Regions from separate parts of the Homo sapiens genome. Here region 1 is linked to region 2. Evidence: fine-mapped expression QTL. A gene starts in region 2. The other region holds a variant in brackets. All regions are shown on one strand. Distances are from middle to middle.

Evidence for each region.
Region 1: its variant is fine-mapped to the expression of OR13A1 in esophagus mucosa (GTEx, PIP 0.91).

What each region holds. Positions count from the first base shown.
Region 1 is chr10:45,394,390-45,396,889 of GRCh38, forward strand. ALOX5 (arachidonate 5-lipoxygenase) reads left to right here. Exons shown (of 14, transcript NM_000698.5): 3 at 1,466-1,547. Among named protein-coding and RNA genes, the nearest start is that of ALOX5, 21 kb to the left of the region's middle. The variant A/G (reference allele first, on the strand shown) is at 1,352.
Region 2 is chr10:45,314,181-45,317,240 of GRCh38, forward strand. OR13A1 (olfactory receptor family 13 subfamily A member 1) reads right to left here and starts at 1,428. Exons shown (of 4, transcript NM_001004297.3): 1 at 1,344-1,428.

The DNA of each region.
Region 1 (2,500 bases), 80 kb after region 2:
CTGGCTAGCCATAGGTAGACAGCTGAAGCTGGATCCCTTCCTTACACCTTATACAAAAATTAATTCAAGGTGGATTAAAGACTTAAATGTTAGACCTAAAACCATCAAAACCCTAGAGGAAAACCTAGGCAATACCATTCAGGACATAAGCATGGGCAAGGACTTCATGTCTAAAACACCAAAAGCAATGGCAACAAAAGCCAAAATGGACAAATGGGATCTAATTAAACTAAAGAGCTTCTGCACAGCAAAAGAAACTACCATCAGAGTGAACAGGCAACCTACAGAATGGGAAAAAAATTTTGCAATCTACTCATCTGACAAAGGGCTAATATCCAGAATCTACAAACAACTCAAACAAATTTACAAGAAAAAAACAAACAACCCCATCAAAAAGTGGGCGAAGGATATGAACAGACACTTCTCAAAAGAAGACGTTTATGCAGCCAACAGACACATGAAAAAATGCTCATCATCACTGGCCATCAGAGAAATGCAAATCAAAACCATAATGATATACCATCTCACACCAGTTACAATGGCAATCATTAAAAAGTCAGGAAACAACAGGTGCTGGAGAGGGTGTGGAGAAATGGGAACACTTTTATACTGTTGGTGGGACTGTAAACTAGTTCAACCTTTGTGGAAGACACTGTGGCAATTCCTCAGGGATCTAGAACTAGAAATACCATTTGACCCAGCCATCCCATTACTGGGTATATACCCAAAGGATTATAAATCATGCTGCTATAAAGACACATGCACACGTATGTTTATTGCAGCACTATTCACAATAGCAAAGACTTGGAACCAACCCAAATGTCCATCAATGATAGACTGAATTAAGAAAATGTGGCACATATACACCATGGAATACTATGCAGCCATAAAAAAGGATGAATTCATGTCCTTTGTAGGGACATGGATGAAGCTGGAAATCACCCTTCTCAGCAAACTATCGCAAGGACAAAAAAACAAACACTACATGTTCTCACTCATAGGTGGGAATTGAACAATGAGAACACTTGGACACAGGAAGGGGAACATCACACACCAAGGTCTGTCATGGGGTGGGGGTAAGGGGGAGGGATAGCATTAGGAGATATAACTAATGTAAATGACGAGTTAATGGGTGCAGCACACCAACATGACACATGTATACATATGTAACAAACCTGCACGTTGTGCACATGTATCCTAGAACTTAAAGTAGAATTAAAAAAAAAAAAAGAAAATTCACTAATTAGGTGTGTGACCTTGGGTAAAGTTCAAGAGCAAAGCTACACAACTTCCCTAAGCCTCAGTTTCTTCATCATTAATTGGGGAAGTGCTCTGAGGCTCAAATGAGGTC[A/G]TGCACATAAAGCACTCGGCATGGGCAGGGCATCTGAGGGAAGCCTGAACACTTGGCATTGGGCATTGTTATTGTTCTTCCTCAGGCTCCTCTCATGTTGTTCTTTCTTTACAGCAAAGTTGGCCCGAGATGACCAAATTCACATTCTCAAGCAACACCGACGTAAAGAACTGGAAACACGGCAAAAACAATATCGGTGAGTTATGACATCAGATCGAGTGGCCACGGGGCCATGGTTTCTTCTATCTCAAGAGCATGGTATGAAATAAACCCTTTCCACAGTGTATGGCCTGTCACTGCTGGAAAGTCACCAAGGCACCAGCTCCCAGTGTGGGTGCACAATCCCCAAACTTCACCTTACCTACAACTCCAGACAAGAGATGGAGAGGAGAGTAATGAAAATAACTTTGGATCAACCATATTGGCATGTAGGAAGAATGGGCAGAAAAGCTTGAGTGTACCTTAATGTTCTCCATTGTAGGGGTTGCCTCTTACTTCTTATGTCTTCTTATAACAATTCAATTATAAAAGTGATACATGATCAGCAATAAAATTGACAACTCTTCAGCCAACTGACCAGAGGATTCAAACCATTAAAATGAGCAATAAGAGAAAATCAATACAGAAATTAAAATGAATAAAAAAGGAAAAATGAGACTCATAAAATGAGGGAAAATCAATACAGAAATTAAAATTAATAAAAAAGAATACTATGAACAATTGCATGCCAACAAACTAGTTAAATGAAATGCGCAAATTCCTAGAAAGACGCAAACTGCCAAAACTGACTCATGAAGAAATAGTTAATCTGAATAAAACAATCACAACCAAAGAGATTGAATTACTAATTCTAAAATTTCCCACAAATAGAAGCCCAGACCCAGATAGCTTCACTGGCTAATTCTATCAAACATTTAAAGAATTAATACTGATCTTGCATAAACTCTTTTAAGAAATAGAAGGAACACTTCCCAATTCATTGTCTCATACCCATATTATACCAAAACTAAAGGCATCACAAGAAAACTATAAACCAATATCCCTTAGCAATATAGATATAAACATTTTCAACGAAATACTAGCAAACCTAACCCAGAAGTATATAAAAGGCATTAAACAATATGAACATGTGGGATTTAGCCCAGGAAT
Region 2 (3,060 bases):
AAGGGAAGTTAGAAAATATCTTGAGATAAAGGAAAATAAAAATACAATGTACCAAAATGTGTAAGATGCAGCAGAAGCAGTGCTAACAGAGAATTTTATAGCTATAAATATGTGCATTATAAAAGGAAGAAAGTGGCTAGGCATGGTGGGTCATGCCTGCAATCCCAGCACTTTGACAGGCTGAGGGAGGAGAACTTCTGGAGGCCAGGAATTTGAGACCAGCCTGGGCAACAAAGCAAGACCCCATCTCCACAACTTAAGAAAAAAAAAAAAAGAAGTAGAAGAAAGTTTGCAAATCAACAACCTAACTTTATACCTCAGGAAACTAGGAGAGAAAAAAAACTACACCCAAAGCTAGCAGAAGGAGGAAAATCCTAAAGATTAGATTAAATCAGAGATAAATGAAATATAGAATATAAAAACAATAGAAAAAAATCAACAAAACTAAGAGGTGGTTTTTGAAAACACCAACAAAATTAACAAATGCTTAGCTAGATTAACTAAGGAAAAAAGATTCAACTAATAAATCAGAAATAAAAAAGAGAACATTAGAACCCATGCCATAGAAATCAAAAGGATTATAAGAAAATACCATCAACAGTTAATTATATGTCAACAAATTGGATAATTTAGAAGTGCATAAATTTCTAGAAATATACAACCTAATAAGAGTGAATCATGAAGAAGTAGAAAAAACGAACAGACTTATAACTACGAAGGAGATTAAACTGGTTCAAAAACCTCCAAACAAACAACAGCCCAGAACCGGATGACTACCAAACATTTAAGGAAGAATTAGAACCAATGTTTCTCAAAGTCATTTACAAAAATGAATATAAAAAACACTTCAAAGCTCATTATATGAGGCCAGTATTACCCTGATTTCAAAGTCAAACAAAGACATTACATGAAAAGAAAACTACAGACCAATATTTGTGATGATCAGGTTGGCTTTATTCCTGGAATGCAAGAATGATAGAACATGTGGCAGGGTGTGCTGGCTCATGCCTGTAATCCCAGCACTTTGGGAGGCTGAGACAGGAGAATCCCTTGAACCCAGGAGGCAAATGTTGCAGTGAGCTGAGGTCATGCCACTGCACTCCAGCCAGAATGACAGAATGAGATTTCATCTCAAAAAAAAAGAATAATACAACATGCAAAAATCAATGTAATACACTATAGTAATAGAATAAAGGACAAAACAGCATGATCATTTATATTGATGTAGAAAAAATGTTTAACAAAATTTAACACCTTTTATCACGAAAACACTCAGCAAACTAGGAATAGAAGGAAAATAACATAATAAAGGCCATATATGAAAAATCCACAGGTAAACTTACACTCAATGGTAAAAGATTCAAACTTTTCTTCTGGATTAGGAACAAGACAAGTATACTCTGTCTCTTCGCTTCTATTCAATATAGTATTTGAATTTCCAAGCAGACCAATTAGGAAAAAAAAATTAAGCAAGAAAAGACATCCAAAGAATAAAAGAAAAAAGTAAAATTATCTCTGCTCACAGATGACTTGATCCTATATGCATAAAATCCTAGACTCCTGCATAAAATCTAGAAAACTGTTAGATGCATATATGCATAAAATCCAGAAAACTGTTGGAACTATTAAACAAATTCTGGAAAGTTGCAGGATCCAAAATCGACACACAAAAATCAGTTGCCTTTCTATAAATTAACTATAAACAATCCAAAGGTAATTAAGAAAATAATTTAATTACAATACCATCAAAAATAGTAAAATACTTAGGAATAAACTTAGCCAGGGAAATAAAAGGCTTGTACACTGAAAACTACAAAACAGTACTGAAAGAAGTCACAAATAAATGTAAAGACATTGGTATTCATGGATTGGAAGATTTAATGTTAAGATCTCCAAAATATCAGATGTATTCCCCAAATCTGTACAACATTATGTATTAATTTGAAAAGTCAATAGAACCCAAAGCAGTCTACAAATTATATGTAATCCCTATCAAAATCTAAGCTGCATTTTTTGAAAAAAGAGAAAAATTTATCTAAATATTCATATATACTCTGACTAGACAATCTTGAAAACTAACTGAGTTGAAGGTCTCATGCTCCGTGATCTCAAAACATGTTACAAGACTACAGTAATTAAAACAGCATGACACTGGCTTAAAGAGAGACATATAGACCAATGGAATAGAATAAAGAACCCATTAAAAGAAAACTCCACATATATGGTCAAATAATATTTACAGCATTCCAGATCCGCTCAATGAGGGAAGAACATTCTCTTCAACAAACAGTGTTGGGAAACTTGGATATCCACACATGAAAGAGTGAAGTTGAAACTTTGTCTTATGCCATATACAAGAATTAACTCAAAATGGATTTAAAACTTAAATGGAAGATCTAAAACTATAAAACTCTTAGAATAAGGGGATATGGCAATTATTTTTTAATATGACACCAAAAGTACAGACAACAAAAGAAAAAATAGACAATTGGGACTACATCAAACTTTTTAAAACTTTTATGCATTAAAGGACATAACAATGTTAAAAAAAACTTGTGGATGGAAGAAAATATTAGTAAATTATATATCTGATAAAGAGTTAATATCCAGAATATATAAATAATTTCTACAACACAATATTTAAAAATAATATGATTTTAAAATGGCAAAAGGATTTGAATAGACATTTCTTTTAAAATTATATATGAATGGGCAAAAAACATAAGAAAAAATGCTCAGCATCCAAACTGGAAAGGAAATCATTAGAGAAATGTAAATCAAAACCACAATGTAATATCTCCTCACAAAAATTGAGTGGTTTACTATTAAGAAAAAGAAATATTAGATAGGATGCAGTTGATAGCAAACAGCTTAAAAGCAACGTGACCCCAGATACTAACTCAAAGCCACACAAAAAACAAAAAGCTCTGGCAAAGACATTTATTTATATTTTTATTTATGTATTTATTGAGGGTTTTGCTGTTTTGTTGTTGTTGTTGTTTACTGTTTTATTTTTGCTTTTTCAACTTTTATTTTAGATTCAGAGGGCACTTGTGCAAG